Linked DNA regions of Homo sapiens. The protein of the gene in region 1 purifies or fractionates together with the protein of each later gene. This does not show direct contact. Each region holds a gene or a part of one and is shown in the gene's direction. Other genes may lie near its edges.

The links.
Region 2: the proteins of FOXR2 (region 1) and POMP purify together in Homo sapiens (affinity purification with mass spectrometry; 3 studies listed by BioGRID and IntAct, with this or other methods). This does not show direct contact.

Annotation. Positions count from the first base shown.
Region 1 is NC_000023.11:55,617,764-55,627,024, forward strand, and holds FOXR2 (forkhead box protein R2), read left to right. Parts: upstream 1-5,636; 5' UTR 5,637-5,948; coding exon 5,949-6,884; 3' UTR 6,885-8,429; downstream 8,430-9,261.
Region 2 is NC_000013.11:28,675,650-28,680,492, forward strand, and holds the end of POMP (proteasome maturation protein), read left to right. Parts: intron 1-2,385; coding exon 2,386-2,453; 3' UTR 2,454-3,310; downstream 3,311-4,843. UniProt on the Homo sapiens protein: Molecular chaperone essential for the assembly of standard proteasomes and immunoproteasomes. Degraded after completion of proteasome maturation. Mediates the association of 20S preproteasome with the endoplasmic reticulum.

The DNA of each region.
Region 1 (9,261 bases):
CACACCCAAATGAGGAATGTGTTGCCTCCAAAATCCAAAGAGGCTCACTAGGCGCTGCGCTTCTTCTTGGTTGTAGGAGGGGCCAAATGCAGCTACTTATCCTTCACCTTAGAAGGAATATCTCGACAGGTCCCATACCACTGGACTCCTAGAAATTTTACTGAGACAGAAGGTCCCTGAATTTTAGTCAGATTTATTTCTCATACTCTAGCACTCCAAAGTCTCACCAATAAGTCCACTGTGTTTGCTACTTCTTGCCCACTGGATCTAATCAGCATAATGTCATCAATGTAATGGACCAGTGTGATATCTTGCGGAAGTGAAAAGTGGTGATCAAGGTCTCTTCAAGTAAGATTATGACACAAAGCCAGAAAGTCAATATACCCCTGAGGTACGACAGTAAAGGTATATTTCTGGCCTTGCCAGCTGAAGGCATATTGCTTCTGGTAGGCCTTATGGACAGGAATGGAGAAAAAAGCATTTGTCAAGTCAGTGGCCGCATACCAGGTACCAGGAGATGTGTTAATTTGCTCAACCAATGAAACCACGTCTGGTACAGCAGCTTCGATTGGAGTCACCGCTTGGTTAAGCCTACTATTATCCACTGTCACTCTCCAAGATCAATCTGTCTTCTGCACAAAACAAATGGGAGAGTTGAATGGGGATGTGGTGGGAATCACCACTCCTGTGTCTTTCAAGTCCTTGATGGTGGCACTAATGTCCACAATCCCTCCAGGGATGCGATATTGTTTTTGGTTTACTATTTTTCTAGGTAGAGGCAGCTCTAATGGCTTCCATTTGGCCTTTCCCACCATAATACCCCTCACCCTACCAGTCAGGGAGCCAATGTAGGGGTTTTGCCAGCTGCTAAGTATGTGTATACCAATTATACACTCTGGCACTGGGGAAATGACCACAGGATGAGTCCGGGAACCCACTGGACCCACTGTAAATCGGACCTGAGCTAAAACTCCATTAATTACCTGACATCCATAAGCCCCTACTTTAACTGGAAGACCACAATGACGTTTTCGGTCCCACAAAATCAATGTCAGCTCAGAGCCAGTTTCCAGTAGTCCCCAAAATGTCTGATCATTTCCGTTTCTTCAATGCAGTTACCCTGGTAAAAGGCCGGAGGTCTCCTTGCGGAAGGATGGGAGAAAGATTAACAGCATAAATTGTCAGTAGTGTAATGGGGTCCTTCCTCAAGGGGACTCGGCCTCCTCTTCATTCAAGGGGTTCGGGTCTGTAAACTGGCTCAAGTCTAGAAATTGATTGAGAGGCCGTGATTTTCTGTTTTCATAATTCAAATTAGTCTTTTGTCCATTCGACCTAGAAGTTTTCTGCTTATATAAATTAAGTAGGAATGCAGTAGGCTTCCTATCAATTTCACTTCTAGAACACCATGATTAATTAGCCAATGCCAGAGCGCTCTCTATCTGTCTCCCCACCTCTCTGTCTCGCTATATATACACACACACACACACACACACACACACACACACACGCACAAAGGGGAGTTTACTAAGTATTAATTCACACTATCACAAGCCCCACAATAGGCCATCTGCAAGCTGAGGAGCAAGGAGAGCCAGACCGAGTCCCAAAACTGAAGAACTTGGAGTCTGATGTTCTAGGGCAGGAAGCATCCAGCATGGGAGAAAGATGTAGGCTGGAAGATTGGGTCAGTCTAGTCTTTTTATGTTTTTCTGCCTGCTTTATATTCTAGCCACACTGGCAGCTGATTAGATGGTGCCCTCCCAGATTAAGGGTGGGTCTGCCTTTCCCAGCCCACTGACTCAAATGTTAATCTCCTTTGTCAGCACCCTCACAGATACACCCAGGATCAATAATTTGCATCCTTCAATCCAATTAAGTTGACATTCAGTATTAACCATCACAGGCACCCTTGGGCTGCATGCAACCTATACAACTATACACAGCAGCCATTGGTATTGTACCTGTTTTTCTGGAACCACATATAGCTTACTCATCGTTTTTCCTGTATTCTTTCCTGATTGCCCATTGATGGAAACAAGTACATATCTATGCTTTACAAAAGACATATACTTAAAATGAAAAAAGTACCCATGAATATTTAGCAGTTTCGTATATAAAAGCAACAAATCTTAAATATCCTATGGCATTTTTTTTTTTTCATTACAAGTACCTTTTTTTCTTTTTTTTATAAGAGAAAAGGTCTTATTCCACTGACCAGGCTGGAGTGTAGTGGTGCCATCACAGCTCACTGCAGCGTTGAACTCTTGGGCTGAAGCAATCTTCGCACCTCAGGATTCTGAGTAGCTAGAACTACAGGCGCATGCCATCATGCACAGCTGATTTTTTAAAAAATTACAGAGGCAGAGTCTCACTCTGTTGCCCAGGCTGGTCTCAAACATTTGGCTCCAAGCAATCCTCCTGCCTTGGCCTCTCAAAGCACTGGAATTACAGGCATGAGCCACTGCACCCAGCCCACAACTACCTTTTTTACTTTTAGGAGTATCATCATGTACTTACAGCATTTAACAGACTAAAATAGTTTCAATTAATCATAGCATATGTGGTAAAATAAAAAGTTACAATTTGGTAATGAGAGCCCCTTTAAGGTGACTTTTCATCCTTTCAACACTGCTCCTGACATTCTTGAAAGAATTTTTATTGTAACAAGAGTCTTTATTAATATTGCTGACTTTTTTCTGCCCAAAAATGTGTATCAGCTACCCTCCTTATCAGTCCTTTGAGTGGGGACCAAAATCTGGGCACAGGAATGCTTTTGAAAATTGAAGGCAGGTAACAGCACTGCTTCTACTGCTGCTCCTGTTGTTGGGTGTATTAGTCCGTTCTCACACTGCTATAAAGAACTACCTGAGATTGGATAACTTATAAAGAAAAGAGGTTTAGTTGATTCACAGTTCCACAGGCTGTACAGGAGGCATGGCTGGGGAGGCCTCAGGAAACTTACAATTATGGCAGAAGGTGAAGGGCAAGCCAGCACATCTTCACATGACAGCAGGAGAGAGAGAGAGCAAAGGGGGAAGTGCTACACACTTTCAAAAAAACATCTTGTGAGAACTCAATATCATGAGAACAGCAAGGGAGAAATTCATCCCCATTATACAATCACCTCCCACCATGTCCTTCCTCCAACATTGGGGATTACAATTCAACATGAGATTTAGGTGGGGGACAGAGCCAAATCATACCATTGGGACTGCGTGTGTGTGTGTGTGTGTATGTGTATAAGAGAGCAAGCATAAGCATGCCCATGCTGAAGAGGTATTTCTAAGGTCATTATGAGTTCCCACCACTTTTTCCAACTTTTTATGTTGTTGTGCCATTTTTTGCTTATAACATATGGTTTCATCAACCGCTGACATTTTTGCCTATATCAACACTCGGGATAGGTTGGGACCTGGGAAACAGGCTACCCACAAATATGAGTTTCAGTACTTTTCCAGAGCATGTGCAAAATGTCCCTGTCTCCTTTCCTGGAGCACACTTAAGCAAGATTGGGTTCTAACATGTGTTTGAGATTAACGGAGGCCATCTTTTGATGGTTAACATCTTACTCTAAAACTCATATAGTTTTATGGGTTTTGCTTTGTATAGTACATATACTGTGTTGAATGTGTACCTGGTTGGCATGTGCTAGCCTGTTCTCCATATCTCTGCTTCTGGGTAACATGTCTTTTAAGCTTAAATAATATCTTCCATGGGATCCCTTTTGATTCCTATTATCTGGGTTAAGTTGTTCCTCTCTATGTTCTTCTATTGAAGTATCTAATACTCATCACACTGTATTTTAACCTTTTGTTTACTTCTCTGTCTTTCCGCATTACTCTGTGATATCCTCTTGGGTTGTGTCTTACTCATCTGCCAGATCTATTACATACTTCTTGGAACATGGTGGATGCTCAATACGTAAATATTGAATGTTTCTAAATGAGGCCCAAAGAAACAATACACAGTGATAACTTGGTTTTACTAGCCAATATCTAAGGATTGGAGCACTCTCCCAGGTGAAGATGGAGGAGAAATTCTGTAACACTAGAGCCCCCATTTAAGGAATAAAAGACTGCTGAGCACTAAAATGCTTCCAGGCTCTCCGTGGTTGGCATAATAAGCTAAATATTTCAAGTTAATCTCCTGCTTTTCCAAGATCAGTGCCCCACTGGAAGGAGATCCATTAATTCCCTATGGGGAGATGGAAGCAGCGTTTTTATTAGAGAAGGCTTTCTGTTGTCTTAAAAGATGAGTAGAGGTTAGCTAAGTCAAGGCAATGGGTAGTAAGCCATTTTAAGCGAATGTTTTTGAGCAAAGGGACATGAGAAAAAAACGGGTGTGTGGTGAAGATCCCAGCATTTCAGTACTTTTTGGACGTGAAGTATGAAGCAAGAAAGCTAGGGTGTTAAGTTACCCTGGAAAGGTAAGCAGGGGTGAGATTTTGGAGGGACTTTTATGTTGCATTAAGTTATAAGATTTTATGTTATAACACCAAAATAGAGAAGATTGGTATAGTTAGTAAAAGCATGTGTTCTGCAGTCAGGTTGCCTATGTTTGAAAGTCAGCTCTGGCCTTTACTAGCTCTGTGACTTAGGCTTTTTTGTGCCTTATGTTTTTTACTCTGTAAAGGAAGAATAATAAGAGTACCTACTTCATAGGATTATTTTGAAGATTTGAGTTAGAGTGCTTACAGCATTCTGTAATAATTAACAGTTGGTACAACTGTTGTGTTGTTTTTTGTATTTATGCTGTAGAAAGACAACTCAGGCCACTTGTATGAAAGATTAGAGTAGAAGAGAACCAGAGTATGGAAACAATATGGAGATTAAAGTGCCTCTCCAATAGCTCCCATTGACATTTGCTGGATATGTTTGCAACATAGTCCTATGTAGTGATTTTAATGATATCGCATACTTTACACATGGATTTTGTGCAAACTGAATTAAAGGAAACCTTGCCATTTTATTTTTCTTACAAATGTCCTGGGTGTGAACTTACTGGAAATAGAACCTCTGGGGCTTTCAGGACCTTGCATACTGTGGCTAAATTTTGGTCCTACTGTTCAGAGTATAGTTCAGAACTCATTTCCTAAGAAGGTGACCTGGAGAGAGGAAAGCCAGCTGTTTCCCAGAAAAGGATTGAAAACGGCAGCAAGGTTAGATTCTAGTATCAGTATGAGAATAATAGAGGCCATGTTCTGATAGTTACCATCTTACTATAAAACTCAGGTTGCACATATTACTGCCTGTTGTATATCGTATGTTGAGTATGATCAAGAGGCAATGCGTATAGTGAAAATAAAAGATCTGGGCTGTGGATCTAGCTCTCCTACTTACTCATGTCTGTATATCTCAGTTGCCATGTCTGTGACATGAGGATAATAATACCATGTTATCTTGCAGGGCTGTGATGAAAATCAGTTGAGATCATCTATGTGAAAGCACTTAACCAAAATCCAAAGGCACTCGATGAATGAAATGATTTTTAAAACCATTAAGGAAGACTCAGAAATATAATGTGATCTATACATATGTTTGTCCCTTCCTTAAATGAACTCATCAAGGGTTTAAATATGTGCCAGATGATCACCTATTATGCAAGTCACCATAGTTTGCACATAATTCAGTTTATAATTCCTCTTGAAGTGACTTTCTGCTTCCAATCAAAGCTCAAGAATTCCACCTAAAAATGTTTTTCTGCTCAAAAGCTCTTTTTTATTACTTCCATGTTTTGAGCCTTGTTCCAGAAAGCTGAGGTTTCTCCAGGTCTGACCACTAATCAGTGAGACATTGGTGCCTCTTTCTTCAGTGCTTCTAGCAGGCCTACTGATAAGCTCCCTAGATGAGATACACTGCATAAAAAAATGATGCCCAAAGGACAGCTTTAAGTGCCTGCTAGATATCTGTTCTTTCAGAAGTCTCTCTCCACCTATCTCTCCAGTAAAGATGGACTTAAAACTAAAAGACTGTGAATTTTGGTATAGTCTCCATGGCCAGGTCCCAGGGCTGCTGGACTGGGACATGAGGAATGAGTTATTTCTGCCTTGTACCACAGACCAGTGCTCTTTAGCTGAGCAAATCCTTGCCAAATACAGAGTCGGAGTAATGAAGCCCCCAGAAATGCCTCAGAAGAGGAGACCCAGTCCTGATGGAGATGGTCCTCCCTGTGAACCCAATCTGTGGATGTGGGTGGACCCCAATATCCTGTGCCCCCTTGGCAGCCAGGAGGCCCCAAAGCCCAGTGGAAAAGAGGATCTGACAAACATTTCTCCTTTCCCTCAGCCCCCACAAAAAGACGAAGGGTCTAACTGCTCAGAGGACAAAGTGGTAGAGTCTCTGCCATCTTCCTCCAGTGAGCAGTCTCCTTTACAGAAGCAGGGTATCCATTCCCCCAGTGACTTTGAGCTCACAGAAGAGGAGGCTGAGGAACCAGACGACAACTCCCTCCAGTCCCCTGAAATGAAATGTTACCAGAGCCAGAAACTATGGCAAATCAACAACCAAGAGAAGTCCTGGCAAAGGCCCCCTCTCAATTGTAGCCACCTTATTGCCCTAGCATTAAGAAACAACCCCCACTGTGGCCTCAGTGTGCAGGAGATCTACAATTTCACCCGACAGCATTTCCCCTTTTTCTGGACAGCTCCGGATGGCTGGAAGAGCACCATTCATTACAACCTCTGCTTCCTGGACAGCTTTGAGAAGGTGCCAGACAGCCTTAAGGATGAAGATAATGCAAGACCTCGCTCTTGCCTTTGGAAGCTCACTAAGGAGGGGCACCGCCGCTTTTGGGAGGAGACTCGTGTCTTAGCCTTTGCTCAAAGGGAGAGAATCCAAGAGTGCATGAGTCAGCCAGAGTTGTTGACCTCTCTCTTTGATCTTTGAAATGCCATTGCTCCCTTTTGGAACACTGCCTTCCTTACTGTGCCTACTTATCCCCTGACATTCATTAATCTCTAAACTTACCCAGCCTGGTTGGTGCCAAGTCTGTCTTTAGCTACTGTTACAATAATGGTGTTAAGTAAAGTTAGAGGTGGGTACAGGGGAGACAGAACTTAAATCCAGGTGGAGAGTCATGGAAAGTCGCACGAGGAGAGTGGCTGTTGTTCCAAATTTTGAGCAAAGGAAAAGAAATCCTAGAAACAATGGCATAGAAACTAAGGAAAGAAGGGTGTGTTTTGTGAAAGAAAGGAATTTTGTTTATAGAGAGTATTTTCACACATGAAAGTGAACAGTGGAATATAAAGCATAAAAGGCAGGATGGAGCCGAGCCATGGAGAACCTCGAGTGCCATGTGAAGAGAATTTGACTTGTGATGAAGAATCAAGTTTCCCCTTCTACCATTCATCAGCTACATCTCCTTTTTAAGTAACCCATTTTATCCTTCAGAACCTCACTTTTCTATTTCTGGCCCTGGACTTCTAAGCCTTGTTTCTTTGTCATCCAATTCCAATATTGACAAATAATTCTAAACAGCTACTTTTAGTTTGTATGTTTAACGTCCTGTGAAATATTCCTGTATTAACCCCAAGCCTTTTGATGATAAAGCTTTATTTTCTATTATTTTTAGTTCTCAAGATTTTATTGAGGATATGCTAATGTGTCAAGGTCCATCTTAGATGCTGAGGATAAAAAGCTGAGGGATACTAGTGGGAGACATATTTATAATGTAAATATGATGAAACAGATGTGAGAAATTGACATGGAAATGGGGAGACATTCTTCCTGGGAAAGACATGAAAGGGCATTGGAAAAAATACATTTTGAGCTAGTTTTGAAGAATAAATGGCAAACTGGAGTAGAGGCATTACAGAGACAACAATGTGAACAAAGTGGATGGAGTGTTTGGGGGAATGGCATGAAGTTCAGTGTGACTTAACTACATGAGGACCGTGAGTGACTAAGAGAAAACTATTAGGTGTTTGGACTTCATCTTGTGGGTTTTTAGGAGCCAAGAGACATCAGTGGAGTTTTGCTAAAAAACAAAAAAAGAAACAAGCCAGCAGCAACAACAAACACTACAGCATTTGTTTTTCTAATTTCAAAATTATCTTTAACATCTTTTCTATGCAAATAAACTTTTGTTTATCAGATTTAAGCATAGCTTTTTGCTTCAATGATATTAACATATATCCAGGAGAAAATAGATTTTTAGGTATAAATTTAGTTGCAAAACCTTCATAATGGGGGTACAAAAACGCCTGTAAGCTACAAAAGCAATTAATTCAATATAATTGTAACTATTTTCAAAGTTCACATTTTTATAATGATGTATTATACCTCATACAAAATTGTATATTTAGGTTAAATCACAAAACAACATATGCAAACAGTATTTTTTGAAAAAAATTGTAAATGCTACTTCTGTATCATAAGGCAAAGACCAAGTTAACAGAATACCTTGGAATTAATAAAATATTCTGCATATAAGTAGTCACCAGTTGCTTCTCATTTTTCTCCCAGATTAACACTTACTAGTAAAAGAGCTGGATGTGAAATTAATGAGACTATTTTTATCACAAACTACACTTCTAATATGCCTAGTCTGTAAACTTCTCAAACAAGGCAAGCTTTCATTTTTAGAACTAGACCTGGAGTTTTCTGCTGCAACCTGGTACCTCTGAGCTTTGAACTCTATTCAGTATTTTCTGATCCTTATTTCTGCTCTCTGGTTGCATGAAAAAAAGCAGTGGCTGGATATGGTGCTTCTTCAGTAATGTCATGATCCAGATATACCTTCAGAGGAACTTTTTAAAAAAATTATAAATTGCTGTAATCGAGTGCAAAATAAAGGAAACTTGAGTTGCTTCATTCAGCTTCCAATTTCTAGGAGGCTTAAGAATCATAAGAATTCTGGATAACAAAAGAAAATAAGACTGTGCTTATAGAGCTTGTTCTGCCGTATTTTTTCTTAATGATTGCTACTTTATTGTTGCTTTTCCTGTTACATGTGATGTATGCATCAGGTGTTAAAAGGTACAATACTTTCTACAACTGAGCACCTTTTTCTGTAAATGAACAAGCAAAGAAATTACACTGAACATCTGCATCTGGCAGTATGTTTTGGAAAAATGACTAAAAATGGGTTTAAATTTAACACTATTAAATCACATCTAATATTTGATACTACACGATTCAATACAGCTATAAAATACAATTATACAAAATATGTTAACATCAAAGAATACAACTAAAATTAAGATAGCAAACACAACCTATATAACTTCTTTTTATAGGAAAATATTTTTGAAGTATGCATGTA
Region 2 (4,843 bases), on another chromosome or scaffold:
AACTACTGTTAGTCTGTTCTTGCATTGCTATAAAGAAATACCTGAAGCTGGGTAATTTGTAAAGAAAATTTATTTTGGCATATGGTTCCTCAGGCTGTACAGGAAGCATAGTGCTGGTATCTGCTTCTGGTAAGGGCCTCAGGAAGCTTACAATCGTGGCAGAAGACAAAGGGGGGCCAGTGAATTATATGGCGAGAGGGAGCAAGAGAGTGAGGGGGCTGCCACACAGCTTTAAACAACCAGAACTTGTGTGAACTCAGAACAAGAACTCACTTATCCGGGGGGTGGTGCTAGACCATCCATGAAGTGTTCAACTCTGTGGTCCAGTTACCTCCCTACAGGGCCACCTTCCGCACTGGGAATCACATGGCTTTGTTTTTTTTCTCTCTCTGTCACCCAGGCTGGAGTGCAGTGGCGCGATCTCTGCTCACTGCAAGCTCTGCCTCCCGGGTTCAAGCGATTCTCCTGCCTCAGACTCCTGAGTAGCTGGGACTACAGGCGCCCACCACCACGCCTGGCTAATTTTTTGTATTTTTACTAGAGATGGGGTTTCACCGTGTTAGCCAGGATGGTCTCGATCTCCTGACCTCGTGATCTGCCCACCTCGGCCTTCCAAAGTGCTGGGATTACAAGCGTGGGCCACCGCGCCTGGCCGGGAATCACATTTCCAACATGAGATTTGGAGGGGACAAACATCCAAACCATATCAACTACCTAATCTAAAGTAATCCCCGCTCTGTCACCCTGCCTTATATTAATTCTTTACATAACACTTATGTGATATTTTTCTTATTTATTATTTGTCCAACTTAAATATACGTGTCAGGAGAGCTGGAGATTTTTTTCTTGTTAACAGTTGTGTTCCCAGTACCTGATAGGGGGCTTGATCCATAGTTAAGGGTCATGTTGATCACATTCTTATCACCTTTGACACAAAACACAGTGTTAAGTCTATAATCAGAGAGTAGCTTGTTAATCTAAATACTGTGTAAAGACTGTGACAGTATTGGAGATGATGACTTTTTTGCCTGCTTATCAGTGAAGTACTTAGGCAAGTTAATTCTGTACATTTTACAAGATTAAGAAGGACGTATAAGGACACTAGTAGAATCAAAAATAGACTTTTTCTTAATGCTGGAAGGGGACTTTCATGTACTCTAATCCCCTAACTGGAAGATGAGTAAATGGAAGCTCACAGAGGCTCAGTCCTCACTCAGAGTCTCACGGCGAGCTTGTGGTACAACAGATGCAAAACCCGTCTCCACCAGTGCCTTGCTTACATGATATGCTGTCTTTTGGTGCAAGTGATTTATTTAATAAATGCATTTTATTAAAGAAGCTTTAAAAAGCAGGGTGTGGAGAAAAGTTTAGTTACATAAATGAGTATATTCTTTGTGCAAAAATTTGAAATATTACCATTGAAACTCAGATTTGCTGTAGTGACCCTCAATCCCATTTTTCTCGTTCCCTAATTACCGGCTGTTTTAGTTTGGTTTAGTCTGTCCTTCCAGACTGTTCTGCGTGTCTTTCTATGTAGTCAAAAATATTGCCTTTTTTTTTTTTAAGTTGAGGTTTTGAGTGCCTTTTATATACACAGCAGTTTATTAATCTCCAGTCTCTTAGGAGGTCCAGTGAGGAAACATCCACATTGTACTGAACTGTTCCTCTTGGTAGCCACCATTATTATGTGCAGGGTTATTCATTTTTACAAAGTGATTTTACGATTTAGTTCATTAGGTTTTTATTCTGTTTCTAGTCCTATGTTGAGTAGAGGACAAAGAAAAAGTCTCTGTCTTTAGGAAGCTTATGCTTGGTATTAATTTTAAAAGTTCTTTTAGGTGTATAATCACAGTTAAAATAAGGCTTTTGTCTGACTCATCTGTAAACACAAAAGTGATGATTTTTAAAGGTTTTCTTTCTTAAGAATTCTTACGTTTGTGTGGATACAACAGGTCAGAAGACAATACAGATAAAACATTTTTGTGAATTAAGAGATTGTTTCCCGTCCTGTGGGAAGCCACTAGAAAACTTAAGAACTTTGAAAAAAAAACTTTTGTCAATCTGTTTTTTCTTTTTAAATCCACTATTTTGAGATATTATTGACATACAATAAAGTACACCTATTTTTAAGTGTACAGTTCTGTGGGTTTTAATTAACATGGAACCTGGTCTCCTAAACAGAGGAGTAGAATGTTTTCATTGCCTCACAAAGTTCCCTTGGTCCCTTTTCAGTCAGTCACCCCACCCCAGCCCCAGGCAATCACTGGTTTGTTTTCTATAACTTTAGGTTAGTTTTGACTCTTCTGGATTCTTATGTAAGCAGAATCATTGAATGTATCTCTTTTTTGAGAGTCTTTTAAAATGTTTGTTTTTGTTTGCTTTCAGATCCATCACAAAGCGAAGTCATGGGAGAGCCACACTTGATGGTGGAATATAAACTTGGTTTACTGTAATAGTGTGCTGTTCATGGAAACCGAGGGCTGCATCTTGTTTATAGTCATCTTTGTACTGTAATTTGATGTACACAACATTAAAAGTACTGACACCTGAGAATTTCTGCTCAAGTAGTATCAGTGATCATTTAAAATTTGGAGGGGTCTTTGGTTTACAGCCATGTGACAATTAAAAGCACTAAAGGGAGATCATGTTAAAGCTCTTAATTTATATTAAAACAGTAGCCTTTGTCTTTAAAAAAGTTGTTGCTCATGAATATTATAAAATGATCTACAGGTTTCAATTCAACCTGTTTCTAGGTTTTTTTGTAAATTTAGTTTTGATTAAGCATTATAAGCATTTGAGTCTATAAACTTTATAGTAGCATCTTTCAGAATAAACATTTTTAATTGATTTCAGTGGCAACTCTCAAATTGATTACAATATGAGATATATCAGTGTCGTCCATTAACACTCATAAGAATAATATTTACTGTGTCAGTGCTATTTTAGGATTATAGTTATTGTTTGATTATTTCAGGTTGAAAAGTAGAAGTTCCAAGGTTTTGATTTTGGTCTGGTCTTTAAGTGAAAAATTAAAGCAACCAGTAGATGTAGGTTAAACTTTTACTTCATAGACTTAATATGTAATTAATATATTGCCAAGCAACACTGTTAAAGAAAAGTAAAACTCATTTTTTCTTGTTCTTAATTTATATATTACAAGATACTGTAAGGTATTCTTTATGAAGTTGATATATAAAAATTTACATTTTTAGAACATTAGTGAATGGATCATCTTTTACAATTAAAAGTATATTTTGATTATCAGTTTCTTAGGAACATCTTTGATTAGATAAATTACTGATTTGAAACATTTGGCAATGTCTAGAGACTTTTTGGAGTTACAACTTTGGGGTTGGGCTGCTACTGGCATCTAGTGGGTAGAAGCCAGGAATACAGCTAAAGATCCTAAAATGCACGGAACATCAGCATCAATTTATGGTCTTGTAACTAGTTGAAGACACTAAAGGGAAATGAATTTAAAACTCACAATTTATATTTGTACAGTAGCATTCTATGTCTTTAAAAAACTTACTTATGAACATTCTAAAACCATCTACATACAGTTTGCACTCTGCAACCAAGATCATTTGGTTCAAAATGTCAGTAGTTGCTAAAGTTGACAAACCTTGAGAAAAGTCAAGTACACTTAAAAAATTTCTTTTGTTGCTCAGGCTGGAGTACAGTGGCGAGATCATGGTTCATTGCAGCTGAGACTTCCCAGGCTCAAGCAATCCTCCCACCTCAGCCTCCCAAGTAGCTGGGAGTACAGGGGTGCATCTCCACACCTGGCTAATTTTTTATTTTTTTATAGAAATGGAGTTTCGCTATATATTGCCCAGACTGGTCTTGAACTCCTGGCCTCTAGTAATCCTCCTGCCTTGGCCTCCCCAAAGTGCTGGGATTACAGGCATGAGCCACTGCACCTGGCCCGTTACACATTTTTAAAATAGATATCTTGCTCTTACCTATTGAGATTAAGTTTAGAATCGTCTTTGCTAATACAGTGTTCTCCAGCCCACTTTACACTTAAATAATAAGAAAATGTAGAAATAATAAAGATTCACTAATTGCTTCTACATATATTCTCCTTAATTAAGGAAGTTGGAGATTTCTTCTGTACCTTAAACCTAGGAATAATAGATAACCCTTCCTGACCAGTAGAGGGTACTGTGTTTAAGAGTGTAGTTTAAATGGAAAATGTGAGGCTTTAATATAGAACTTGGTAATCACAAATAACACTTTCTGATGGTCTTTTTGCCTCCTCTCTCCTCTTTTAACCTTTGTGTTACCAGTGGCCCTCACCCCTGGATGCTTATAGGAATCAGCTGGGAATCTTGAAGAAATTTTAGTGTCAGTATTTTAATCTCATAAATTCCAGTAGGACTAGTCTGAAATGGATCCCAGGAAGTATATTTTTTGAAAGCTCTCCACGTTGAGAACCTTTTATATGCTTTATTCCCTTTCTTTGCTTGCTCTGCCTTTGTGTTAGTGACAATTGCCAATTGCAATTCCCAGGTTGTGACCTGTGCTTCTGACCGACTGGTTGCAAATTGGGGTTCCCACTTTCCCTCTCCTTGGGTTTCATAATTTGCTAGGGCAGCTCATAGAACTCAGGGGAACACTTTACTTACATTTATCTATTTATTATAAAAGATATTGCAAGGGCTACAGATGAACAGCCAGATGGAGGTGATGCATAGGGCAAGGTAAGGGGGAAGGTGCTAGGAGCTTCTATGCCCTCTCCTGGCACACCACCCTCCGGACACCTCCACGTGTTTACCAACCTGAAAGTTCAGGGGTTTTGATAGAAGCCTCATCTTGTAGGTATGATCAATTATGAACT